Linked DNA regions of Homo sapiens: regions 2 and 3 are each linked to region 1. The links come from fine-mapping of genetic effects on gene expression. A gene starts in region 1. Each other region holds a variant in brackets. All regions are shown on one strand. Distances are between the middles of the regions.

Region 1 (5,980 bases):
GCACTGAGGGTCATCTGCCTAGGGCCACCCAGACAGCAGTGCTGAGCCAGGACTGGGGCCCGACTTAGCCAAGCCCAGGGTGGGCGTCCATCCTCACCTGCCTCCGGGGACAACATTCGTGAGCCCACAGGCCCTGGGCCATGGTGTGCACTCAGGGCAGCAGCTTGAGATCGCCCCAGAGGGGTCCTTACTTCGGGAGCAGGGTGAGGGTGGGGGCCCTTCCACTCAAGAGAGCTCCTACACAGTGACCATTGGTCCAGCGATTTCCAGTGACTCCCAGCCTTTCTGCAGGGAAAGAGCTGCTTCCATTATCTGAGCCTAGACCCCAGTTCAACTTGCTAACTTTCTGAACTGTTTTAACATACGCTGCACTCCCAGATTACACGGTCTGGAAACTTTCTGAGTGTTCTTAATAATTTCAATCTTCTACAAGGGCCAACAAAAAAAAGATAAAAACAATTCCAGATCTTCCCAATGACAGCACACCCTATGTTCAGCCCCAGGACCTGGTGCCAGTTCCACAGGTTTAAATATATCATTTTGTTGTAAATTAAGAGTCAACCAATTCTCTTCTACCTCGCTTTACTATTTTAGCACACAGACACATGCCACCATACCCGGCTAATTTTTAATTTTCTGTAGAGATAGAGTTTCACCATGTTGCTCAGGCTGGTCTTGAACTCCTGGGCTCAAGCGATCTCCCACAGAACTGGGTTACAGGCGTGTAACCCAGCTGTAGTCCCAGCTACTCAGGAGGCTGAGACAGGAAAATCGCTTGACCCCAGGAAGTGGAGGTTGCAGTAAGGGGAGATCGTGCCACTGCACTCCACCCTGAGTGACAGGGCAAGACTCCATCTCAAAAAAATAAAAAAAGAGAAAACTGGGCACTGTTACCAAAAGGAAGTGCCAGCCCCAGAGGCTGAGAAGTCCCTCATTCGTGCACAGACTTGTATGCCACTGGGCAGAAGTGCAGTGGGAGGAGAGGAGCAGGCATTGTTGGCCAGGAGCCCTGCATCTTACCTAATGGGCTCCAAAAAGATACGTCTGCTTCCCAATGCCCCAAGACCTGTGAATGGGACCTTATTTGAAAAAATGGGGCTGGGCATGGTGGCTCATGCCTGTAATCCCAGCACTTTGGGAGGCCGAGGCAGGCGGATCACGATGTCAGGAGATTGAGACCATCCTGGCTAACACGATAAAACCCTGTCTCTACTAAAAATACAAAAAGAATGAGCCGGGCGTGGTGGCGGGCGCCTGTAGTCCCAGCTACTCGGGAGGCGGAGGCAGGAGAATGGCGTGAAGCCAGGAGGCGGAGCTTGCAGTAAGCCGAGATCACGCCACTGCACTCCAGCCTGGGCAACAGAGCGAGACTCCGTCTCAAAAAAACAAAAAGAAAAAACGGTCCAGCTAAGTGCAGTGGCTCATGCCTGTCATCTCAGCACTTTGGGAGGCCAATGTGAGTGGATCACCCGAAGTCAGGAGTTCGAGACCAGCGTGGTCAACATGGTGAAACCCCGTCTCTACTAAAAATACAAAAATTAGCCGGGCATGGTGGCGGGCACCTGTAATCCCAGTTACTTGGGAGGCTGAATTGCTTACACCCAGGAGGGGAAGGTCGCAGTGAGCCAAGATTGCACCATTGCACTCCAGCCTGGGCAAAAAGAGTGAGACTTCATCTCCAAAAAAAAAAAAAACGGATAAACGGTCTTTGCAGATGTAATTAAGTTGACAGTACTGAGATACGATCATCCTGGATTAGGGTGGGCCCTCAATCCAATGAGAAGTGTCTTTATAAGACAACTGGAGAAGAGTCACAGAGAAGAAAAACCTGTATGAAAAACAGAGGCAGAGACTGGAGTAATTTGGTACCTGGGGCCACCAGGAGCTAGAGCTACAAGAGGCAGGAAGGAGCCTCCTCTGGAGGCTTTGGAGGGAGCGCAGCCCTGTGATACCCTGATTTCACACTTTTGGCCTCCAGAGCTTAGAGAACAAACTTGTGGGGTTTGGTGGGGAGGGGAATTCTGTTTTGTTTTAGAGATGTAGTCTTGCTCTGTTGCCCAGGCTGGAATGCAGTGGTGAGATCATAGTCCACTAAAACTGGAACTCCTGGGCTGGAGTAACTTTTTTACTTTTTGTTTTTTCAATCCTGGGCCGGCTACTTTTATTTATTTATTTTTATTTTTAGAGGTGAGTGGGGCGGGGGTTCTGGCTATGTTGCCCAGGCTGGTCTTGAACTCCTGGCTTCAGCCTCCAGGGCAGCTGAGATTACAGGCAGAGCCACTGCGCCAGGCAAACTTGGGTTGTTGGCAGGGCGGGGTGGCTCACGCCTGTAATCCCAGCAATTTGGGAAGCCGAGGCGGACGGATCACGAGGTCAAGAGATCGAGACCATCCTGGCCAACATGGTGAAACCCTGTCTCTACTAAAAATACAAAAATTAGCGGAACGTGGTGGCGGGCGCCTGTAGTCGCAGCTACTAGGGAGGCTGAGGCAGGCAAATCGCTTGAACCCGGGAGGCAGAGGTGGCAGTGAGCCGACGTCGCGCCACTGCACTCCGGCCTGGCGACAGAGTGAAACTCCGTGACTGCACTCCAGCCTGGCGACAGAGTGAGACTCCGTCTTAAAAAAAAGAAAAAACAAAACAACAACAACAACAAAACTTGGGTTGTTCTAAGCGACTCGTTCGTGGTCATTCATTCCAGCAGCCTGTGGCGGTGCACACGCCCCTCTCAGCGCAGCCAGGGGCTGGCACCCCCATCCAGGTTGTTCTCAGCCCGCTTTGAAGCCTCCACGGGAAGGCGCAGCGGAGCAGGGACGCGGAAACGCCGCAGCTTCCCAAGCCTCACCCACCTCGCAGCGTCCGCAACCAGTCCACGTTGGGAGCCTGCAGCGCTTCCGGGTCCGTGACGACCCCGCCGGGCACGATGCGCTCAAAGGCGGCCAGGTCCTGCTTAGACACCGTGGAGAACGGCAAGCGCCGCACGGGGTAGCGCTCCCGGGTCAGCGGCACCTCGGGGGTCCCCGGGGCGGAGCAGCAGCCTCTGCGGGCCAGGGGGCCAACCGGCCGACCCCAAGAACCCGCGGCTCCCGGAGCACCCCGCAACAGCCACGCGGGCCACGCCAGAGGCCGACGGGGCAGCATCGCCGCCGGGACGGAGACCTCGGGCTCCTCCTTGGTGGGGGGCCGGTACTCAGGGCCCGGAGGGGAAGGGCAGGGAGCCGCTGGCTGCGCGCCTGGAAGTGGCCAAGGGTAATTTCATGTTTTATGCACGTTGTACAAATTGAAACACGCTTGCAGAAGCAGGGAGGGGGCAGGAGGGCAGCGAAGGGAAGGCTCCGAGCACCCGGGCCCTCCCCCTGCCCGGGCCGCAACCCCGCGAGCGCGCGAAGCCCCACGCAGCAGGCCTGGACTTAGCGACGCGCAGGCTCGGGGCGGCCTCGCCGGGACCTTGCCCAGGACCCCGTTCCTCCGAGCTCGCCCCCCGAGGGGATCCCGCGGACGCGCGCGCGTGTTCCACGCGGTCACGTGACGAGCTGCAGCGCCGTCCCCCTCCCCCCACAGGCACCGACTGGCTGACGGCGCCCGAGATCGCGCCCCGCCACCCCGACCCGCGGCTGAACCGCAGACCGGGACCCTCAGCCCAGCGCTCCGCGCGGCCGCGCGCACGCACCCACGATCACGTCCCGAGCTCCAACCCGCAGCGCCCGCCGCAGGCCCAGAGCCGCCGAGCCGGAGTGGGCGGGGCGACGCCGCGCCTGCGCATTGACGGCTCCGCCCAGCGGCCGAAGCCCCGCCCCGCGCGCCTAACGGGCCCCGCCCCGCCTGCCCTCCAGGCCCAGCCCTGCGCGCCTACAGTCCCCGCCCCGCCGTCCAAGCCCCGCCCCGACTGGCACCGGAGGCTCGACGGCCACCGCCTCGTCCTGCGTTTCCTGAGGGCCTCCGGCGCGCCGGCTGTCGGGCGCATCCCTCCAGGTAGAGAAGGGACTAGGCTGAGCGCAGCCCAAGACGCCCAAGCAGCAGCTGGAGGGTTCTCCAGAACGAGGCCCGGGACGTGGGCTCGGCCGAGGGACCTGGGGGCCGGCCCGCTCCTCCGAGGCCGAGCCCAGGGGGCGCCCCTTTCCCCAGCGGCCTCCCCAGCTCCTGCACGGACCACCCCTCCTGGGTCCCCAGCCTTAGCTTAGGGGGCAGCTGCCTCCTGCAGGTGTTTTCTTGCCTCCCTGTCCCTTCTGCCTGTTCAGCCCTCCGTGCCCTCAAACCCTTTGCACACCTGGGGAGCTCCTGCCCTCCTGACGCAGTAACTGCTGTCCCGAGGAGCCTCCCGGCCTGGGATCCCCTGCCTGAGGCATCGCCAGCACTTGTTTTGTGTTTTTTTGAGACAGGGTCTAGCTCTGTTGCCCAGGCTGGAGTTCTGGGGTTGATCTCAGCTCACTGCAACCTCTGCCTCCCGAGCTCAAACCATCCTCCCACCTCGGCCACCCAAGTAGCTGGGACTACGGGCGTGCACCACCACACCCGGCTAATTTTTTGTTGTTGTTGTATTTTTGTAGAGATGAGGTCTCATGTGCTGCCCAGGCTGGTCTCGAACTCCTGGACTCAAGCGATCCGCCCGCGTCGGCCTCCCAAAGCACTTGTTACTTCAGCTCACCCAATTCCATAGAACCCTAGCGGGTGCAGAGGATGCCAATCTCTGAGCAGATGAGGGCAGAGAGCAGGAGACCACACTTGGCCCGAGGCAGGACTGCGGAGCTGTGCAAGAGGTGGAGGCTACGCCCGTGACAGCAGATGGGTCCTGGTAGTCACACAGAAAACCGGCGAGCTGGATTTGTCCTGGTGATGAGGCTCTGGAGCAGCAGTTGCAAGGAGTCATTCCTGTCCTCCTTAACCACATCCCCAGAGGCCACTCACCTTCTTCCCAGGTGAATCATTCATACAACCCTGGAAAGGAGACATCCACCTGGCCCTTCCTACCTGGCTGGCCCTTGCTCTGCAGATGAGTGTGGGAGTTTGCCCATTGTCAAGGGTAACTGTTGCAATTACACATTCAGGAACTGGAAAGACGACCACAGATGAGGTCTGTGGACCCCCTTACCACCTGACCTCCACACGCCCTCCCTTTGACTAGCAGGCCAGTGGCATCTTGGACCCCTGGGATTAGGAATGATTCAAAACCCATAAAGATTACCACCCATACCATCCCCTAAAATAACTGATTTTTCTGACCAGGCACGGTGGCTCACGCCCATAATACCAGCACTTTGGGAGGCTGAGGCAGGTGGATCACCTGAGGTCAGGAGTTCGATACCAACTGTGGGCGGCAAGCCACCCAGGTGCCGAGGCAAGAGACCGAAGACACGAGCTGTTCCAGTATAATAAAATAAGAATAGTTATACCAGATATAGATCTTAGATATGATTATATATGAATATCATTAATCATTAGTTGGTAGCAATTACTCTTTATTCCAATATTATAATAATCCTCGCTCTACAATCATAACCTAGGAAAAACCAGGCCATACAGAGATAGGAGCTGAGGGGACATAGTGAGGAGTGACCAGAAGAGTGCGAGCCTTCTGTTATGCCCAGACAGGGCCACCAGAGGGCTCCTTGGTCTAGCGGTGACGCCAGCGTCTGGGAAGACACCCGTTACCTAGCGGACCGTGGTCTAGCGGTAGCGAAAAGTGTCAAGAAACACCACCCGCTACTTAGCAGACCGGAAAAGGGAGTCTCCCTTTCCCCGGGGGAGTTTAGAGACGACTGTACTCCTCCACCTCTTGTGGAGGACCTGACATCAGTCAGGCTCGCCCGCAGTTATCCGGAGGCCTAACCGTCTCCCCGTGATGCTGTGCTTCAGTGGTCACGCTCCTAGTCCGCCTTCATGTTCCATCCTGTACACCTGGCTCTGCCTTCTAGATAGCAGTAGCAAAATTAGTGAAAGTACTAAAAGTCTCTAATAAGCAGAAATAATGGCGTAAGCTGTC
Region 2 (5,980 bases), 24 kb before region 1:
TCTACTAAAAATGCAAAAATTAGCCGGGTGTGGTGGCACACGCCTGTAATCCCAGCTGCTCGGGAGGCTGAGGCAGGAGAATCGCCTGAACCCGGGAGGCGGACGTTGCAGTGAGCCAAGATCGCACCACTGCACTCCAGCCTGGGTGACAGAGCGGGACTCCATCTCAAAAAAAAAAAAAAAAAAAAGGAAAAGAAAAAGAAAGAAATTATTTATTTCCCTCTGTTCCCTCCATTCCCCCGAAGGGAACTGCCCTGAACTGAGGCTGTCTCCGCACCAGCAGACATCAGAAGAGAGAACAGAGACTCCCTCCTGCTGCTGGGAAGCAACTGTCAACCCAGAACCACGGAAATCCACTGAGGAAAAGACATTTTTATCAACTAAATCAGTACATTTCCAGACAAAGAAAATCTGAGCTGTTCCGTCACCTATTTTTCCATGCCAGGGAAAATTCTGGAGGCTGAGATTCAAGCAGAAGCTGTGTGCAAACTGGCTACGCAGAATCAGGATGGTGACATGGTGACAGGGTTATGTGTGACTGAACAAGGCAGAACCAGAATACACCACCGAACAGCATGCAGGTGCCCCTCAGTGTCCCTGGGGGACTGGATACAGGACCCCTCGGATATCAAAATCCTGAGATGCTCGAGTCTCTGACAGGAAATGGCATAGGATTTGCATATAAACTACACACATCCTCCTGTATACTTTTCTTTCTTGAGACGGAGTTTCGCTCTTTTGCCCAGGCTGGAGTGAAGTGGCACAACCTCGCCTCACTGCAACCTCCGCCTCCCAGATTCAAGCAATTCTCCTGCCTCAGCCTCCCAAGCAGCTGGGATTACAGGCACACGCCACCATGCCTGGCTAATTTTTGTATTTTTAGTAGAGATGGGGTGTCACCATGTTGGCCAGGCTGGTATTGAACTCCTGACCTCCGGTGATCCACCCGCTTTGGCCTCCCGTATTGCTGGGATTACAGACGTGAGCCACTGTGCCCGGCCCCTCCTGTATACTTTAAATCACCTCTAGATTACTTACGATTCCTGGTACGACGGAAATGCTGTGTCTGTCACTGTTATACTACATCGTCTTTTGTTTATTTTTTATTGTTGTATTGTTATTTTTATGGTTGAATCTGCAGATGTGGAGCCCGCAAATACAGGGGCCACCATAAACTGGGGGGTAAACGACAGCCAAAGTGACGGGGCCCTGAAGTCCTCGCACTGTGCAGCCATCAGGGCTCCCAGAGAGGCAGAACCAGCAGGATGTGTGTGTACAGACAGTGCGAGCAAGAGTGAGATTATACATATTTAGAGAAACAAACAGAGAGAGAAAGATGGAGAGACACACTGAGACACAGGGAGATGACAGACACTGATTTTAATGAACTGACTCATGTGACTGAGGGAGCTAAGTCTAAAATCTGAAGTCCAGGTCAGCAGGCTGGAGATCCCAGCAGGAGCTGGTGCTGCAGCTTGAGTCTCCATCTGGGTCAGAATCCTCTCTTCCTTAAGAGATCTTAGATTTCTGCTCTTGTGGCCTTCGACTGATTGGGTAAGGCCCACCCACGCTGTGTCGAAGTCCTTCGACTGATTGGGTAAGGCCCACCCACACTGTGGCAAAGGACTTCGACTGATTGGGTAAGGCCCACCCACACTGTGGCGAAGGACTTCGACTGATTGGGCAAGGCCCACCCACGCTGTGTCAAAGGCCTTTGACTGATTGGGTAAGGCCCACCCACGCTGTGGCAAAGGCCTTTGACTGGGTAAGGCCCACCCACGCTGTGGCAAAAAGCCTTCAACTGATTGCGTAAGGCCCACCCACGCTGTGGCAAAAAGCCTTCGACTGATTGGGTAAGGCCCACCCACGCTGTGGCAAAGGCCTTCGACTGATTGGGTAAGGCCCACCCACACTGTAGCAAAGGCCTTCGACTGATTGGGTAAGGCCCACCCACGCTGTGGCGAAGTCCTTCGACTGATTGGGTAAGGCCCACCCACACTGTAGCAAAGGCCTTCGACTGATTGGGTAAGGCCCACCCACGCTGTGGCGAAGTCCTTCGACTGATTGGGTAAGGCCCACCCACACTGTAGCAAAGGCCTTCGACTGATTGGGTAAGGCCCACCCACGCTGTGGCGAAGTCCTTCGACTGATTGGGTAAGGCCCACCCATGCTGTGGCGAAGGCCTTCGACTGGGTAAGGCCCACCCACGCTGTGGCGAAGTCCTTCGACTGATTGGGTAAGGCCCACCCACACTGTGGTGGGAGATCTCCTGTACTCAACGTCTACTGATTTAAATGTTAATCACACATAAAAAATATCTTCACAGAAACATCCAAACTGGAGTTTGACCAAACGAGGGTACCAGGGCCCAGACAAGTGGACGCAGAGAATTCACCATCACACATTATTTGGGAGGAAGATAGTGACTCTGATTAACCTCAAACCCAGAGGGCTAGAAATGTCCACTGTGGTGCCAGGGCGACCACCAACAGTTAGTAAACGGCAAAAAGCTAAATGACAAAGAACATAAACCAGAAGAGCAAAAAACAGAGGAAAAAATAGACAAGAAGTGAGAGACAAAGAGCAGGGTGAAGTAGACAAATCCAAACAGTGGGCCACAGCACGTGCTCAGCAGCCAAACGCTCTCATTCAAGACGGCAAACAAGTACGCAAGAAACCTGTCCGGGGGCGTCCACAAGAAACACATCTAAATCACTAAGGATGGAAAAGCTGAAGCTAACCGGAGGAAAAACAACACATCAGGCAAACACTAAATAAAAGAAAGTTAGCATCACTGTGTAATAAACAAAGCAGACACCAAGGCAGCGGGCAATGCTGGAGATAAAGAGCGAGTCCATCGCGTTAGGAGATTCAGTTTCCCAAAACAAAGAGACGAACCTCATGTCCTATGCCCCTAAGAACACGTCTCCAGAACTGGCAAAGCTACAGGAGGAACAGATTAGTCTGTTGTCAGCAGATTTCTAACACCTCCCTCAGGGAGTGGCAGGTCAGCAGGATGTAGAATGAACACGCGACGTATACTTCTATCTGATGGATCTGTACAAACACTGATTCCAGCAACTGCAGAGAGCACATTCTTTTCAAGCACTCCACAGTTACGAAGGCTGATCATAAGCTGCCACTGATCAAGTTTCAAAAATCTGATCTGATAAGGACGAAGTTTCCTGGGTATAATGCAATAAAAAAGAAATCAATAATTTTTAAAATAACTAGAAAACCACCACGTTT[G/A]GAAATTAAGAAACACACTTCTGCATAACTCATCGGTCAAAGAAGGAATGATAATGCAAGCAGCAAATAATGCCAGGCACAGTACCTCACGCCTGTAATCTCTGGCTTTGAGAGGCCAAGGAGGGAGCATTTGCTTGAGGCCCCGGAGTTCAAGACCGGTCCGGCCACACAACTGGCTCTACATGAGTCTGGCTCTACACACACACACACACACACACACACACACACACACACACACATATATTGTGGGGCGGGGGGCGGTATAGATCAGATGTCACTGTGTTGCCCAGGCTGGTCTAGAACTACTGGACTCCAGTGATCCTTCCAGCCTTGGCTTCCTGAAGTACTGAGATTATAGGCGTGAACCACTGCACCGGGCCTACAAAAAAATTTTTTTTTAGTTAGCCAGGCCTGCTGGTGTGTGTGAGGTGGCGGGCCTGCTTGATCCCAGAAGGTCGAGGCTGTGGTGAGCCACTGCACTCCAGCCTGGGTGACAGCGAGACCCTGTCCCCACCAAAAAAAAGGGTGTGGGGGCATCCCACAAATGCTACATAAAAAGACAACAAAAGAATATTCGAACAACTTTATGCCAATATGGGAAAAAATTAGCAATACCAATCTAGAAGAAAGGAAAGCTTGAAAGTCCTAAAGCTATTGAAGAAGCTGAGCTATAATTTTAAAATACTCCCTCAAAAAAACCTCCAGGCCCAAACAGCTCCACTGGCAAGTTCTGCATAATATTCATGTTATGATTTTGATACCAAAATCCAGCATGGACAGAAGAAAGGAACAGCGTGGAACAGAATCATCCACCAAGACCCCTGTCAAAATCCCACACCAAACATAAACAAACTCATCCAGCAAGATACAGAAAGGATCATGGCCACCTTGGGCCTACCCCAGAAACACAGACTCATCTGACTCCAGAGGGATCAATCAGTGTAACTTACCACACTGATTACAGGCAGACAAGCACCCGGTCACCATGACAGATGCAGGAAACACATTTTAAAAATTCAACATTCATTCTTGCTTTTTTTTTTTTTTTTGAGATGGAGTTTCACTCTTGTCACCCAGGCTGGAGTGCAATGGTGCAACCTCTGCTCACTGCAACCTCCGCCTCCTGGGTTCAAGTGATTCTCCTGCTTCAGCCTCCCGAGTAGCTGGGATTACAGGTGCCTGCCACCATGCCCAGTTAATTTTTTGTATTTTTAGTAGAGGCGAGGTTTCATCATGTTGGCCGGGCTGGTGTCGAACTCCTGACCTCAGGTGATCCACCCGCCTCAGCCTCCCAAAGTGCTGGGATTACAGGCATGAACCACTGCGCCTGGCCCATTCTTGCTTTTACAAAGTAACAGAGGGCTCATTCCATTTCTCACCAAGATGGTCTGCTTTATCTGTGGCCAAGAGAGACTGAAGTTACCTGGAGAGGAGGAAGCCTCCTCCTGGCTTGAGGTCATATTCTGAAATATTGGGGATCCCGTACCCCTCTTCTCTGGATGATGACACACTCATCATGCCCTTAACCCCTTCCCATATTCTGAAATATTGGGGCTCCCGTACCCCTCTTCTCTGGATGATGACACACTCATCATGCCCTTACCCCCTTCCCATATTCTGAAATACTGGGGCTCCCGTACCCCTCTTCTCTGGATGATGACACACTCATCATGCCCTTACCCCCTTCCCATTCAGGAGTCCTGCCTTCCTATCACAGAAGATTACCATCCATCCTATGTCAAATCCTCCAGATGTACCCCTCCACAGGCTGGGCAACTTTGGGCAAGTTACTTAAATTCTCTGAACCTGTTTACATGTGTGTAAAAGGGAAGCAACACCACCAGTCCTAAAAGCTGTTGTGCAGAGAAGTTTCTCCACATCAAGTGCTTAGAATAATGCCTGGGACAGCACGGGACCTTCGTAAGTAATACGTGTTATTGTCGTCACGTACACAACCCTAGACCCTCCTGTAACCACAGAGGTGGCACCTGAATCCCATTTACTGGCAGATGGATGGAGGCTTCAGGTCAGTGACTCCAGTGCCACCAGGCCAGGGAAGAAGCCAGAGTGAATATCTGTCAGGCCCCAAAGCCATGCTCCACACCCCCAGCACTGCCCCCACCCCTGCCCTATAAGCTGGCCTTTTAGACACCTCGCTCCAAGGCTCCAAAGAACTGACAGGAAAACAGCTGGGCACGGTGGCTCACTCCTGTAATCCCAGCACTTTGAGAGGCCGAAGTGGGCAGATCACCAGAGGTCAGGAGTTCAAGACCAGCCTGGCCAACATGGCAAAACCCTGTCTCTACTAAAAATACAAAAATTAGCCAGGCCTGGTGGTGGACGCCTGTAATCCCAGAGACTCGGGAGGCTGGGGCAGGAGAATTGCTTGAACCCAGAAGATGGAGGTTGCAGTGAGCCGAGATTGCGCCACTGCACTCCAGCCTGGGTGACAAGAGTGAAACTGCGTCTCAAAAAAAAGAACTGATAGGATTGAAACATTTTCTTCCTATGAATTAATAGCTTACACGTTAAAGCATGATTTTTCTGCAGAAAAAAGATGATCTGAACGTGGTTTTGAAATCCTCCCATCTGAAGGGGTAGAGCAGCTGGGGGCTAAGCACTGCAAAGGCCTCGGGGCCGGGCCCTGTGAGAGGAGCCCCTGAGACCCGCATCCCGGACTCCGGGGTTAAGGCTGATGCCCTCCAACCCTGCATGCCACTGAAGATCCCAG
Region 3 (5,980 bases), 36 kb before region 1:
AGCAGCCGGGGAGCAGCCGGGGAGCAGCCGGGAGCAGCGGGGAGCAGCCGGGGAGCAGCCGGGAGCAGCCGGGAGCAGCCGGGGCGCACGCACGTTACCCTCTTCAGCCGACACTGCAGGCGGGCGGGCAAGCCCAGGGCCACCTCGGGGCAGGGGCAGGGGTGGCCTAGCTCAGAACAGAGCAGTCAAAGGATGGAGTCAGCTTCTAGGTCTCAGATCCCGGGTCCGGGGCTGCAGGAAGGAAGTCTCCTGCCCCGGGCAGGCAGTGGTCGACTGTGGGCTGGGCGCTGGCAGGAGGTGGGGGCCCTACAGAACTCCCGGCCAGTCCTTCACCAGTCCAGGGCCACCCATCCGCCCACGTCCACAGAGGGCCGAGGCCACAGCCCCCAGCACTGTGCTTTGAAGTGGGCCCTGCTCCACGGTCTCTGCTTTCCGGAGTCAAGGGGCAAACCCTCACCACCAGGAAGAACAGGTTTCACCCCTTCCACCGGTGACGCTGAACACCCCTGGCCGCTGTGCATCCCATTCCCTCCCTGTCCCCAGGGCCCCAGGGCCCCAGGGCCATGGAACCCGGAAGGTAGCTCCAGGTGCCACACACTCTGCCAGAAACAAAGGGAGCATCACCTCGCTTCCTGGCCTCTGTTTGCACAGCCGCTGGCACAGGGCCTGTGGGGAGGGGCGAGGCAGGAGCCAGGAGGCCGTCTGAGGACCTGCCCACAACCCAACAGGACCCCAGCCCTGTCAGGCCGCACCCGGGCACACCCAGGAGGCACCTCCGTGCCCGTCCGCCAGGCCGGGCACTGTTCTAGAAACTTCACAGCAACTCTTGATCTCCCAGAAGGGCAGGTGGGGAGACAGGGCCCATGCTCCCTCGAGAGGATCCCCCTCTGGGGGTGGGTGCAGGAGGGCAGAGCCTTTGACTGGGGCTGCCAGGACCATGACCCCCACCAGCCCTTGTGGCCTCCTGGGTCCTGCCCTGGTCTGTCCTCCCCACACCCCTGAGGTCCAAGGGGCAGTGCTGGGGAGCACTGCCAAGGGCTTGCGCCCGCCCTGGGTCTAACCGGCTAACAAAGCGAGGAGGGGCCCGTCCCGGGGCCTCAGCCTGGGAGCAGACAGCCGCCCCAGCTCCTTGCCTGTGGGGTCCAAGGAAAAGTGAGTGGGAGGGCTCAGGTCTGTGATGTTCCACCAGGAGGAACCCGGCCCAGGGCCTAGGTGTCAGGAGGGCTCTCCTAAGACAGCCCCGAGCTTCCCAGCCCCTCCACCTGCCCCTAACCCTCAACTCAGGCTCCTGGTCCACCCCAAGGGCCCCCAGCCCTCCCCGTCCCAGGCAGCGCCACATTCTAGCAGCTATTTGCTCTCGGCCTCCCTGACCAGCTCCTTTTTATTTTTCCAGAGAGGGTCTCGCTCTGTCACCCAGGCTGGAGTGCAGTGGTGTAGTCACGTGGGGCTCCCCACAGCCTCGACCTCCTGAGCTCAGGCTTGTCCCTCCTCCCCTGTAAGAGCCTCCTGTAGCTGGAACTCTAGGTGCATGCCACCACGCCTGGCTATGTTTAATTTTTTGTAGAGGCAGAGTCTCACCATGTGTGCCCAAGCTCTTCTCAAACTCCTGGGCTCAAGCAATCCTCCCACCTCGGCCTCTCAAAGTGCTGGGATTCCAGGTGTGAGCCACCGCGCCCGGCCCTGGACCAGCTCCTCGAGGAATCATTTTTCACTCCTCTGCATCGTTTGGGTGGGTGTGGGGGTGGACACGCCTACCACACAGGCAGCTTCAGGGTCCCAGAAGGTCAGTGGCACCCCAAGGGACCCAGGCCGAGGGTAGGGCCTTTTCAGGTCACAGGTGCTCAGAGGCAGCAGAACAGGACCTAAACCCCGAGCGCTCAGGAAAGCAGCCGGCGTGAAGCCACATCGCTGGGGGGCCAACGCGCCGGGCCAGGTGGGCAGAGCCCTGGTCACTGGTCGTTAACGTGCCTGCCATCTGGGTCCAGACACACTGCCCTGTACGCCTGTCACCTCTGCCTCCATGTGGGCGAAAGTACCTAGGTGCCGAGGCAAGAGACTGAAGGCACAAACTGTTTCAGTATAATAAAGAAAATAGTTGGAATAAGATTAGTCATAATACAAATTAGATATAGAGATGATCATGGACAATTATCAATCATTATTATAAACATTATTAATCATTAGCTTTTAATATTACTCTTTGTTGCATTTCATACTCCTCCTGTACTCCTGGTTCCTCTTTGAAGTTCGTAGCAGATAGCGGTAAAACAAATAGTGAAAGTCTTAAAGTCTTTGATCTTTCTTATAAGTGCAGAGAAGAAAATGCTGACGTTTGCTGCCTTCCGTCTCTGCTTCGGCTACCTAAAAGGGAAGGGCCCCCTATCCTGTAATCACATGACTTACTTCACCTTGTCAATCACTGAGAAGATTCACCCTCCTTACCCTGCCCCCTTGTCTTGTATGCAATAAATATCAGTGGGCCTAGCCCTCTGGGACCACTACTGGTCCCCGCGTCTTGATGGTAGTGGTCCCCAGAGCCCAGCTGCTTTCTCTTTCTCTCTTTATCTTGTGTCTTTATTTATTACAATCCCTCATCTCCACACACAGGGAAAACACCCGCTAAGCCCCGTAGGGCTGGACCCTACACCTCCACACTGCCAGGATCCTGATGGACGTCCTCAGGGGCCTGCGGCGTCCCAGGAGCCCCAAACCCCAAACCCTTCCTCTGGGCTCTAAGTCCACAACTGTCAGACACCTCTGGGTCCCAACCACTTGCCCTTCTGCTTACAGGAAACTGGCTCCCCCAGGGGCTCTCCCAGGGGCCAGCCGTCCTGGGGGAGGGGAGGGGCGGGCACTCCACTCTCCCTGGGGCTGAGACCACCCGGCCCACCCCTTCTCCCCTCTCCCCTGCTGTACACAGGCAGCTCTGGCCCTGCCTGGGGCCCCTCCCACCACTCTCCTGGCCCCCTCCTTGGCCTCAGCTCAGGGGCCCTGGTTGTGTAACATCTTCTCAGATTGCAGCAGCTTAGAGGTCTTAATGTGACAATCACCAGCTTCTAATCCGAACACAAAGGCCGCCCCTGAGCACCCACCCCGCCCCGACGACCCTGGCTGGAGCCGCTGCAGAATTCCGTCAGAACCCGCCAGGCCGGAGCTGCTGCGGAAGGAACGGGGCCAGAACCCGCCTTCCTCCCCACACACGTGCTCCTCATTGCTCTTTCCGCGTGGCTGCAGGCCTCGTCAGAGCCTCCGGCTGGGAGGTTGGGACGGCGTGGAATTCTCTGCGCGTCTCTTACACACACCTGACCACGGACACTCAACGCCGTCACATGGCCGTTGGGGGAGCTGTCTCCGGGGCACCAAGGCTGGTGGCCTGCCTCACGCAGATTCGCCGCGTTCTCCTGCGTCGGAGTCACTCGGAGTCTGTGTTAACCCGCGGGCTGCGAGAACACGGCCTGCCTGGATGCGATCGGGTCTCATCAGATTTTCCTGCTGTCAGGTAGAGAAATCTAACAGGTTTCCGGCTTGTGAAAACTCCTGGCCTCCCAGCCACCACGCAGTGTGGGTTTTCCTCATGGCAGACAGGCAGTTCTTCGGGCCAGCTCGGGCCAGCCAGGTGTCTCACCGGCACCTGCTTTGCCTGGCTGTGTTGTATTTCACATATCTAAAGGCACAAAAGAAAAGCCTGAGGGGGATCTAAGAAGCCCCTCTCCCCATTGCTGGATAAACTGGAGGTGAACATGGCAGGGCAGGGCAGCAGCGGAGACGGCAGGACCCAGCCACGGAGCTCCAGGAACAAGTGCCCACGGCTGGCAGCAGGGCTGTCATGGGCAGGACGTGCCCGGCACTGGCCTGCTCCGGCCCAACGGTCACCGCAGCCTCCTGGAGCCGGACCCCCAGGGAAGAGCAGCCGCAGCCTCTTCCTCCTCCAACAGTCCTGGACTGTGTCCGCTTCCCCAGTCCCCAGAGGCCCAGCGGAAGGCAGTGTGGATGCAGAGGTCTTGCTCTCCCAGGGTCCAGAGGGCACTAG[G/A]GGGAGGAATTCCTCCTCCCCCCTCTGCAGGCACTACCAGCGGGTGTCCCTCAGCAGGCAAGGCCAGGCCTCTGCAGCCCCACAGCCCATGCTGAGCCCAGATCCTCACGGGAAGCCCGGGGCTCTGGGCTTTTCCCTGTCACCCGGCTGGCCTCTCCAACAACAGGAGTGAGCATTTAGACCACGACCAGGGCCGGAGGTCCTTAGGAAAGCAACGGACCCCAGCTCTGAGAATCACAAGTCCCTACCCAGGGTGGGACGTGGGGTCGTGCGGCCAGCACGGGCAGAAGCTTGAAAGCCCCCAAGTCACCCCTGGGCCAGCAGCAGCCACCCAGGGCAGGAGGGCAGGTGCACAGCCAGGGTCAGCGGGTCAGCAACTCACCCTGGCCTGCAGCCTACCCAGCACGGACCATGTGCCCAGTAGCAGAGCTAGAGGAACAAGCAGAAAAATGGCCGGCCCCCAACCAGAGGTCAGAGGGAAGGGCAGGAGCCGCCGGCTGACCTCGGGGGACGCGGGCACACGCTGTGGGGCTTCGTGTCAGGCACCCATGGGGCCTGGGGTCTGCTCTGTGCAACAGATACTGTCGGGCTGCCCATGGGTACCCAGCCTGGGATGGCAGAACAGTGGCCAGAGCCCAGGGACAGAGCCGGGCCTTGGCCAGTGAGGCAGGACAGCCCCAGGTGCCCCCAGGCACAGCAGGAAGTAGCCCAGGCATTGGGCGGGACCCACTGGCTCTGCTGGGCCAGCATGAAAGTGCCCCTGATTTGTGCCTTCAAAGCATGCTGGATCGGCTGGACGCAGAGGCTCGGGCCTGTAATCCCAGCACTTTGGGAGGCTGAGGTGGGAGGCCGCTGGAGGCCAGGAGTTCAAGACCAGCCTGGGCAACACAGGGACACCTCATCTCTACAAAAAAAAAAATTTAAAAATTATCTGGGCATGGCCGGGTGCGGTGGCTCATGCCTGTGATCCCAGCACTTTGGGAGGCCGAGGCGGGCAGATCATGAGGTCAGGAGATCAAGACCATCCTGGCTAAGAAGGTGAAACCCCATCTCTACTAAAAATACAAAAAATTAGCCGGGCACGGTGGTGGACACCTGTAGTCCCAGTTACTCGGGAGGCTGAGGAAGGAGAATGGCGTGAACCCGGGAGGCGGAACTTGCAGTGAGCCAAGATCGCACCACTGCACTCCAGCCTGGGTGACAGAACAAGACTCTGTCTCAAAAAAAAAAAAAAAAATTATCTGGGCATGATGGCTCACACCTGTACTCCCAGCTACTCAGGAGGCTGAGGTGGGAGGATCACTTGAGCCCAGGAGGTGGAGGCTGCACTGAGCTGTGACTATACCCCTGCACTCCAGCCTGGGTGACAGAGTGAGATCCTGTCTCAAAAAAAAAAAATCATGCTGGACCAAGGCCCCCACCCATCCCCCGAGGACCTCCACCAGGAGGACGTGGCCTGTCCACACAGAGGCCCTGGCTAGGCAGGCGGGCTCTGCAGGGCAGCGGGTCAGAGGTATGTTTCCCCCTCTGAGCAGGATCCGAGGTCCTCGACACCCACAGGGACAGGAGGGGCCCGTGGATACACCTCGGTCAGGCCCAGCTGCTGAGGGCCTCCAGGGCCACCAAGGGTTATGAGTTGCCCGTTCCATGTCCAGGCCTGCCCTGTGCAGCCGGTGGGAGCTCAGCTGCCACCAGACAGTGCATGGGGACAGGAGGCACAGTGACAGTCACAGTAGTGTCAGGCCCGGCCACACTATGGCCCCAGTGGTCCAGGGGCTGTGGGAATGGGATGCACAGGCCCTTCACAATGGGCTCTGAAAGATGATTTTCCAGTAACAGAAGCAAAGAGAAGGTTGCAACCAATTCAGATTTTTACTGGACATTCATGACAGAATGAGATGTGCATCCAGCTGCATCGCCCAGCCCATCCGCTGCCCAGGGCAGCTGACG

The links. PIP is the estimated chance that this variant, and not a neighbour inherited with it, causes the effect.
Region 2: its variant is fine-mapped to the expression of D2HGDH in Th2 cells (Schmiedel 2018, PIP 0.95). The same link has a PIP of 0.9 or more in Th17 cells.
Region 3: its variant is fine-mapped to the expression of D2HGDH in nucleus accumbens (GTEx, PIP 0.94).

What each region holds. Positions count from the first base shown.
Region 1 is chr2:241,732,386-241,738,365 of GRCh38, reverse strand. D2HGDH (D-2-hydroxyglutarate dehydrogenase) reads right to left here and starts at 3,736. Exons shown (of 10, transcript NM_152783.5): 1 at 3,671-3,736; 2 at 2,850-3,233. The coding sequence starts at 3,141. RefSeq lists an enhancer at 2,670-2,909 and silencers at 2,950-3,059, 3,070-4,119, 4,160-4,209.
Region 2 is chr2:241,756,278-241,762,257 of GRCh38, reverse strand. The region is part of intron 9 of D2HGDH (D-2-hydroxyglutarate dehydrogenase); the gene reads right to left. Among named protein-coding and RNA genes, the nearest start is that of GAL3ST2, 18 kb to the left of the region's middle. RefSeq lists a silencer at 1,338-1,538. The variant G/A (reference allele first, on the strand shown) is at 3,250.
Region 3 is chr2:241,768,715-241,774,694 of GRCh38, reverse strand. D2HGDH (D-2-hydroxyglutarate dehydrogenase) reads right to left here. Exons shown (of 10, transcript NM_152783.5): 10 at 5,884-5,980. Among named protein-coding and RNA genes, the nearest start is that of GAL3ST2, 5.1 kb to the left of the region's middle. RefSeq lists an enhancer at 3,020-3,932. The variant G/A (reference allele first, on the strand shown) is at 4,031.